2 linked regions of the Homo sapiens genome follow. The protein of the gene in region 1 purifies or fractionates together with the protein of each later gene. This does not show direct contact. Each region holds a gene or a part of one and is shown on either strand. Other genes may lie near its edges.

Evidence for each region. Proteins that work in one complex are often made in the same cells at the same time.
Region 2: the proteins of DNPEP (region 1) and PEX7 purify together in Homo sapiens (co-immunoprecipitation; one large-scale study listed by IntAct). This does not show direct contact.

Annotation. Positions count from the first base shown.
Region 1 is NC_000002.12:219,369,968-219,374,727, forward strand, and holds the end of DNPEP (aspartyl aminopeptidase), read right to left. Parts: intron 4,376-4,760; coding exon 4,325-4,375; 3' UTR 2,076-4,324; downstream 1-2,075.
Region 2 is NC_000006.12:136,824,976-136,830,050, reverse strand, and holds part of PEX7 (peroxisomal biogenesis factor 7), read right to left. Parts: intron 4,838-5,075; coding exon 4,780-4,837; intron 3,733-4,779; coding exon 3,582-3,732; intron 1-3,581. UniProt on the Homo sapiens protein: Receptor required for the peroxisomal import of proteins containing a C-terminal PTS2-type peroxisomal targeting signal. Specifically binds to cargo proteins containing a PTS2 peroxisomal targeting signal in the cytosol.

The DNA.
Region 1 (4,760 bases):
GAGGAGGAGGAGGAAAAAAAAAGGAGAAAGAGGAAGAGAAGATAAAAGGGGCTGGGCGTGGTGGCTCACGCCTATAATCCCAGCACTTTGGGAGGCTGAGGTGGGCAGATCACCTGAGGTCAGGAGTTTGAGACCAGCCTGGCAAACATGATGAAACCCCGCCTCTACTAAAATACAAAAAAAAAAAGCTGGGCGTGGTGACACGCACCTGTAATCCCCACTACTCAGGAGGCTGAGGCAGGAGAATGGCTTGAACCCAGGAGGCAGAAGTTGCAGTGAGCCGAGATGGCGTCACTGCACTCCAGCCTGGGTGACAGAATGAGAGTCTGTCTCAGAAGAAAAAAGGAAAAGAAGAAAAGAAAATTCTAAAAAAGGTAAACTAATCTATAGTGACAGAAAGCAGATCAATGGTTGCTTGGACGTCAGGAGTGGAGAGAGAGATTGATTGCAAAGGGGTACAAGAGGATGATGGAAAGGTTCTGTATCTTGATTGTGGTGGTGGTTTCCCAGGTGTATATGGTATATCTGTCAAAATTCATAGAATTTTACACTTTAAGTGTATAATTTATTATATGGAAATAATACCCCAATTTTTTTTTTTTTTGAGATGGAGTTTCGCTTTTGTTGCCCAGGCTGCAGTGCAATGGCACAATCTTGTCTCACCACAACCTCTGCCTCCCGGGTTCAAGTGATTCTTCTGCCTCAGCCTCCCGAGTAGCTGGGATTACAGGCATGTGCCACCATGCCCGGCTAATTTTGTATTTTTAGTAGAGACAGGGTTCCTCCATGTTGGTCAGGCTGGTCTCAAACTCCGAACCTCAGGTGACACGCCCACCCCGGCCTCCCAAAGTGCTGGGATTACAGGCATGAGCCACTGCACCCAGCCTTCATGTATAACTTTTAACTCCCTGTAAACTTAATTACTGTTGACCAGAAGCTTTACTGATGACATAAACAGATTACCACATATGAAGTATATTCTATGTATTACACACTGTATTCTTACAATAAAATAAGCTAGAGAAAAGAAAATGTTATGCCTGTAATCCCAGTACTTTGGGATGCTGAGGCAGGAGGAATGCTTAGGCCAGGAGTTTAAGACCATCCTGGGAAATGTAGTGAGACCCTGTCTCTTTAAAAAATTAAAAAATTAGCTGGGTATGGTGGTGGGCACCTGTAGTCCCAGCTATTCAGGAGGCTGAGTGGGAGGATCGCTTGAACCTGGGAGGTGAAGGTTGCACTAAGCCAAGATCTTGCTACTGCACTCTAGCCTGGGCAACAGAGCAAGACACTGTCTGAAAAAAAAAAAAAAGGTGGGGGGGGGAGAGAATGTATTTACTATTCATTAAGTGGAAGTGGATCATCATAAAGTCTTCATCTTTGTCGTCTTCATGTTGAGTAGGCCAAGGAGGAGGAAGAGAAGGGTTGGTTGGGGCAACAGTGGGAGAAGAGGCGGAGGAGGTAGAATAGGGGGTAGCAGGGGTGGGGGTTCAGGAGAGCCAGGCATACTTGGTATAACTTTTTTTTTTTTCCAAGACGGAGTCTTGCTCTGTTGCCCAGGCTGGAGTGCAGTGGTGCGATCTCCGCTCACTGCAACCCCCGCCTCCCAGGTTCAAGCAGTTCTGTTGCCTCAGCCTCCCAAGTAGCTGGGATTACAGGCGCCCACCACCACAACCTGCTAAATTTTGTATTTTTAGTAGAGATGGGGTTTCACCATGTTGGCCAGGCTGGTCTCGAATTCCTGACCTCATGATCCGCCCACCTCAGCCTCCCAAAGTGCTGGGATTACAGGTGTGAGCCACCGCACCTGGCCGGTATAACTTTTATTGGGACAAATCCACATGTAAGTGGATGAATTTGAACTGCACAGGTCCATTTATATGTGGATTTTCTTCCACCTCTGGGGTAACATTTCTATCACCCTCTTAAAAGTTTTCTTGCACCCTTTTGCAACCAAACTCTCTCTCAATCCTTGACATTCAAGCAACCACTGGTCTGCTGTCACTATAGTTCAGCTGGCATTTTCTAGAATTTATCCCATGGGAAAAACCAAGGCAAATGTACAATGATATATGTACATTTATCTCAATGTTATTTAGAGTTGTCAACTGGAGAAAAACTTAAATGACCATTATTAACAGACTGAATAAATAATGACCATCTATACAATAAAATACTGTACGCCAATTGTAAGAGTAAATACAGTGTGAGGGTAAAATTTTTTACATAAGTAATACATGGTACATTCTGTTATACAAAAGGAAACCATTACAAAAAGGCTAAGGCCCTTTTGTCACTCCCAACCCAGAAGATCACTGTAAAAGTTTCAGGTGCATTTTTCCAGGCTTTTTCTATACATGTATACATCTACGTGCATATTTATATACACATAAAAATATATAATAATTTTTTTTTTGAGACGGAGTCTGGCTCTGTCGCCCAGGCTGGAGTGCAGTGGCTCAATCTTGGCTCACTGCAGCCTCTGCCTCCCTGGCTCAAGCTATTCTCCTGCCTCAGCCTCCCGAGTAGCTGGGATTACAGGCACCCACCACCACGCATGGCTAATTTTTTTTGTATTTTTAGTAGAGAGGTTTTCACCATGTTGGCCAGGCTGGTTTTGAACTCCTGACCTCAAGTGATCTGCCCACCTCGGCCTCCCAAAGTGCTGGGATTACAGGCATAAGCCACCGTGCCTGGCCATATAATGTTTTGAAGGTACTCCTTGTCCTGTGTCCAGTTCTGCAACCTGCCTTTTCTACTCAACAATGTCTTTGTAATCTCTTCATGTTAGTACACACACTATACAATTTATCTTTTTCTCAATAGCTACCTATAATGGACATTTCATAGTGTATTTGGGCTTGCCTTTACTGAGAAATCTTTAGATGAATTCTAACTTTTTGCCATTGCTAAATTAAATTTATATGTATTGATATAGAAATATCTCTATATTATATTAAGTTTTTTAGAAAGCTGAAGTGGAATATTTATATGGAAATAAACTTTTATATAGGTATCAAAAAGATTGGAAGGACACCAGTTTGCACAATTATTTTAGTGGAAGGAAGGAGGTTGGTTTATAAGCAGGCTTTGACTTTTTCTTTTTCTTTTTTTTTTTTTGAGAGAGTTTCACCCTTGTTGCCCAGGCTAGAGTGCAATGGCAGGATCTTGGCTCACCACAACCTCCGCCTCCTGGGTTCAAGCGATTCTCCTGCCTCAGCCTCCGGAGTGGCTGAGATTACAGGCATGTGCCACCACGCCCGGCTAATTTTGTATTTTTAGCAGGGACAGGGTTTCTCCATGTTGGTCAGGCTGGTCTTGAACTCCCGACCTCAGGTGATCCGCCCACCTCAGCCTCCTAAAGTGCTGGGACTACAGGCATGACCCATCACGCCTGGCCTTTTTTCTCTGAGACAGAGCCTTGCTCTGTTGCCCAGGCTGGAGTGTGGTGGCTCCATCTCAGCTCACTGCAACCTACGCCTCCTTGGTTCAAGCTATTCTCCTGCCTCAGTCTCCTGAATAGCTGAGATTACAGGTGTGTGCCACCATGCCTGGCTAATTTTTTTGTATTTTTTTTTAAGTAGAGATGGGTTTCACCATGTTGGCAAGGCTGGTCTTGAACTCTGACCTCAAGTGATCCACCTGCCTTGGCCTCCCAAAATGCTGGGAATACAGATGTGAGCCGCTGCACCCGGCCAGACTTTGACTTTTCCAATTTTTTCAATGATAATCTTTTTTCCTGATAATATGTTCACAATCAAGTAATACCAGGGACTGCTGAGAAGTGGATGATGAAGGGTGATAAGGTATAGACTGTGCCCTTCTCTTTGCAGCTCCTGAGAGGGGATGGGAAGGGATTTTGGGAGGGTGAGAAACAGCTTTGTCTGCCCAGAGCAGCTCTGAAGGTGGCCCAGTGCAGAACAGGATCTCTGAAGGCAGAGCGGGACACCCATTCTGGGGATGGAAAGAGGGAAGACCGTTGAGGCCATTTCCCAGGTGGAGGACTAGGGGTGGGAGAAGTGACCTTCTGCTTGAGGATCCAGTCCACCCTTCACCCACTTCAGACATGGACTTGAGACAGAGAAGAGATTTAAAACCAGATTTAAAACCATCAGCTCCCAGGAGTGTGGCCTCCTCCACCTGCTCCCCAACTTTTCTGGTTCCAAAGGTTCAAGCCAGGCTCAACTCCCACTCCTCTAGTCTCCAAATAAGCGTAGCACGGAGAGTCTGAGTGACAATCCACTTTAATAATCCAGCTTCAGCTCAGCTGAGAACTTCCCCTCTCAGGTGCAAAGGGATGGCAGAGAAGTCTTTCCAAGAGGGCTCAATCCACTAAGAGATTATGGCTTAGAGAAGGGAACAGCTCAAAGAAGCCCTATAATGGGAGGCAACATGGAGTTTGGAATTAGTGAGTGACCAGATGGAGATGTCCTGCCACCCACCTCCCACCAACATATGTTCCAGCAAGAGAAGCACCGAGGTTTCATCTGTTCTTGACAGCCACCCCAGTCTTCTCAGCCCTGATCCCCTCTTCCCATCCCCTCATTTTCCATTTCTTTGGGTCAGGGCCCCTGAGCCTTGAGAAGAATAAGGACCGTTGTTTTATCTCTTTTTTCTCTTTTGTAGAGACATGGACTTGCCATGTTGCTCAGGCTGGTCTCAAACTCCTGGCCTCAAGCAATCCTCCCACCTCCCCAAGTGTTGTCATTATAGCATGAGCCACTGTGGTTGGCCAGGACCCTTGTTTTCCTACATGGCCC
Region 2 (5,075 bases), on another chromosome or scaffold:
CATTAGTTGCTCTTCTATTTCACAACACAGCTTCCCTGAACATACTGGTGGAAAAAAAAAAAACAGAAATTGGCTATGTTCATTATCAACTTTTTTTTTTAATAACTTTCTTTTAAGACAGGGTCTCACTCTGTTGTCCAGGCTGGAGTGCAATGGCACGAACTCAGCTCACTGCAACCTCCACCTCCCATGCTCAAATGATTCTTGTGCCTCAGCCACCAAATAGCTGGGACTACAGGTGTGCACCACCACACCCAGCTAATTTTTTTATTTTTAGTAGAGGCGGGGTTTTCGCCATGTTGGCCAGGCTGGTCCCAAACTCCTGGCCTTCAGTGATCTGCCCACCTCGACCTTCCAAAGTGTTAGGATTACAGGCATGACTCACTGCACTCAGCCTCATTTATTAATTTATTCAACAAATATTTACTAGCTCCTTAAAACTCTCATTTGAGCTTAAATCCTTTTAAGTATTTTTGAGTATCTGGCATATGCAATGGACTGAATATATCCCCACAAAACCCACATGTTGAAATCTTAACCCCCCAGTGTAATGGTTTTAGGACGTAGGGCCTCTGGGGGGTAATTAGGTCATGAATGTAGAGCCCTCATGAATGGGATTAGTGCTCTTATAAAAGGGATTTCCCAAACCTCTCTCATTCTCTTTCCACCACCTGCAGATACAATGAAAAGACAGCAGTAGTCTTTGACCTAAAAGAGGGCCCTCATCAGAACCCAAACATGTGGGCACCCTGACCTTGGACTTCCAACCTCCAGAATAGTAAGAAATAAATTTCTGTTCTTTATAAGGCACCCAGTCTATAATACTTTGTTACAGCAGCCTGAACAGACTGAGGCAGAAACTGGTGCCAAGAATTAGGGGTGCTGCTGTAACAAATACCTAAAAAGGTTATCTTCATTTATTTTTCACATAACCAAGCAAAATATGTGAAACAGTAAACTCTGACTGTTGAAGCCATTTAATTGTTTTCTATTACACTAACATTCAAGGCATCCTGATACAAACGCTTACCAAAAAGTGCATTTGAAAAGAAAACGAGGAAGTCTAACTAGAATAGCAGTACGCAAAACAAATTTAAAAAATTAAAAAACAGAAGTGTGTCTTCGGTTCAAGAAATCAGCTGCAAAATCACAGAATGATGTAAAACTGGTTTAATAGCAGTTCAAATAACAAAAGAGGTAAGTGTGTTACTAGCAGACTCAAAGTAACCTAACACTAAGACATGGCTGAGAACAATGTATAGCCACTTTAGGTAATATTATTAGAGCTAGGGGCTCAAGACTATGGTGGTAAAATCTTATAAAGCTTAGCCCTTCATCACATTTCTGGAATAAATTAGGTATATGTTGAAAGGGGAGTTGAAAAACAGGATTATCAAAGGAGGCTATCAGAAGGATGAAAGACGTACAGATCATGTCATCTGAGGACAGGACAATGAAATGACAAGTGCACAGTCTGGAAGAGAGCACGATGGCTATTTTCAAGAGGTTTCCTGGACAAGAGGGGCTGGACCTGGTCTTGCCACTTCAGAGAAAGACACTAAAAGCAGCAGTTGGTTGCTATAGAAGGTAGAGTTGGGATTACAAGAAGCAGTTTCTTAATAATCAGAACAACCTAAAAGTCAAATAAGTTATCTCAAGAGAAAGTGAAATTTACTTTCACTGACAGGAAGTAAAGACTGAGTGAGCATCCATCCAGGATATCCTAGAACAGTATTTTCCAGAGAGTAGTTACACCAGAGATTATTTTAACTGGTACATACATTTATTTTATTCATTACTTACTTATCTCAATGTACACTAAAAACAAATAAATGTACATACTAAAGTAGCCATCAACCCCATTGTTTCATGAATATTACTGTTTTAGGATAAATGAAGCAACGACTTTACTTGATTGAAAGAAAAACATTAAGTCAATATATTGAATTTACCTTAACTAGCTATATTATTTTATGATGTCAGTTATCATCCTTGAATTTATATAGATAATAAAAGGCACCAAAGATTTAAGAAAAAGGAAAAAAAAAACTTCTGAAAAGAAAAATATTTTTTAAAAAAGAAAGAAGGAAAAGAAATACATTATAATACAAGTGGTATAAAAAGATGTCAAACATCACAAAAACTAGCCTGGGCAACATAGCGAAACTCCATCTCTACAAAAAAAAACAACAACAAAAAAACACACACACACAAAAATTGGCTGGGCACGGTGGCTCACGCCTATAATCCCAGCACTTTGGGAGGCCAAGGCAGGTGGATCATGTGAGCCCAGGAGTTCAAGACCAGCCTAGCCAACATGGTGAAACCCGTCTCTACTAAAAATACAAAAATTAGCAGGGCACGGTGGCGCACGTCTGTAATCCCAGCTACTCGGGTGGCTAAGACATGAGAATGGCTTGAGCCCATTCCAGAAGGTGGAGGTTGCAGTAAGCCAAGATTGCACCACTGCACTCTAGCCTGGGCAACAGAGTGAGACCCTGACACACACACACACACACACACACACACACACACACACACACACAAATTCACACAGGTTCCACAAAAGTATCTGAATTTTGGACATACTGTTCTGTAGAGATTCGTGCATTGATTATCCTGAAACTAAAATTTCTCCTTTACCAAAATTGTCTTAATATTCAGTAATTCCCTGAAAACATAGTAATTTACAACTACATTTATTCAAATAGCTATCATAATTAAAATAGAAACTAAAATTTTTCATTATTTCAGTAACAATCTTAGAAATCTTGATTGTCAATAGCTACAGCTATAAAACATCTGGACCCCTCACATAACTAATCTTTACCACAAAAGACTGATATTCTTGCATCTAATAAGCATTTATTGAGGGCCTTCTCGGGCCAGGCACTGTGGTGGACAAAAATTTGAAAGTAGATTAGCAAGTTTTCATCTGAAGGATGTACTGCTCCCTTAAGGAAAATCTTAAAACATTTAAGGTAAAAACACAAAAAGAGGATGTCTTTATGTTCACTGAAAATATACATGTATGTTAGTACAACTGAAGCCCAAACTATTTTCTATGCTATACATACACACACACAAAATCTAGACACATGAACCAGATTTAGATATAAAATCCCTTCAGTAAGTTCTGCCTCATACTCAGTATTTTATGCTCTTGCTCCAATATACTCTGAAACACCTCGGGAATCTCACTGAAGCCCCAAAGGCAATCTTGTGATGTCTATGTGAAAAGTCCACCTACCTCTACCTTAAGGCACCATGTGGCAAGCACATTCTTAGAGCACAAAGAAAGTGATGGGCCTCTCAGGAGGAAATGGTGCCAGAGTACACTGCTGGAGGTGTTCTTTCTGCCTAATGAGAAGACTGACCTTTTCTTTTCTTTCCCCACTCCTTAGGCCAAGAGGTACTTTATGTTTGAATAATCAAATAATAAGTGACATCTAGTATGTATAAGAAATGCTAACGTTTAAACTTGTCCCCTGAAGATATTTCTCCATGTGTCCATCCCCAAATGGATTTCAACCAAAGTCGAAGAAAGAAAAATAATCAGCCCAGAAAGATTTCCCTCCTACCTCCTGAGCGTGTTCTTTATAGACTTGCAGTGGCCCTGCAGCTTTGGCAGTGTCCCAGAGCTGCAGCGAGCCATCGCCACTACAGGTGATGAGGACATGTTCGTTGTTCTCACTCCAAGTCACATCAAACAAACCATCATTCCAGTCAAAGCTACACTAGGAAAAAACAAACAACAAAAAAATACAACACTTACATAGGCAGCTACACAACAAAAAAAATAACAATTATGGTTTTTTTTCTTTCAATTTATCACACATTTTAACACGTATATCTCATGTAATCTGCACAACTACGGGAGTTAAGTAGAGTAGGTACTTGACAAATATGGCAACAGATTCAGAAAGGTTAAAAAAAACAGTCCAGTGGAATGTAGTAGTCCAAAAATGTAATAGTACACAGTATACTGCTCCACATTTTTTTATGTTTAAATTTTATAATTTATGAGTGGACACTAAGAGACAGGCTTCAGATTTGTTTTGTTTTTTATTTGAGAGAAAGAGTCTTGTTCTGTCATCCAGGCTGGAGTGTAGTGGCCCAATCACAGCTCACTACAGCCTTGAACTGGACTCAAGCAATCCTCCCACCTCAGCTTCCCAAGTAGCTGGGACTACGGCCTAAAAATTAAAAAAATTTTTAGGCTGGGCCCAGTGGCTCACGCATATAATACCCACTTTGGGAGGCCAAGGTGGGCAGATCACCTGAGGTCAGGAGTTTGAGACCAGCCTGGCCAAAATGATGAAACCCCATCTCTACTAAAAAATACAAAAATTAGCCGGGTGTGGTGGCGGGCACCTATAATCCCAGCTACTTGGGAGGCTGAGGCAGGAGAATCACTTGAACCCAGGAGGGGAAGACTGCACTGAGCCAAGATGGCGCCACTGTACTCCAGCCTGGGTGACAGAGCCAGACTCTGTGCATAAAAAAAAAAAATTTCTTTTAGAGACGGGGTCCTCCTATGTTGCCCACGAGGCTGGTCTTGAACTCCCGGCCTCAAGTGATCCTTCTGCCTCAGACTTGGGAATAGCTGGGACTACAGGTGCGCACCACCACAATCAGCTAAAAATAAGCTTCATCCTATGCAAACGCCAAGGTTCCTTTTATACTGTATATTAAAACATTAATCAAAGAGTCAAAACCTAATTCTATTAAGGCTTTAATAGCAACAATATATACCTTTAATAATTTCAGCCCCCTTACCTTCTAAAAAGCCTTAGCCCAGCTTCATCTGGATCCAATATTAGTAGGGTTCCACAGCCTAAAGAGAAAAAAAATCAAGGTCATCCCTTTGAACCTGCCAGGGTAACATCGAAAGTCAAGGAGTTATCAAGTAATTGATACCTGATTTTAATACCACAAATTTTTCCCCAAAGTATTTGGGACCTTGAATACCAAATGGTCAGGTGATCAATTTCTCCCTAAAGTTTTTGGGACATGAATACCAAATGTGTTCTCTATTTCTGTTTTTCCATATTGTACTTCAGTTACTAAATATT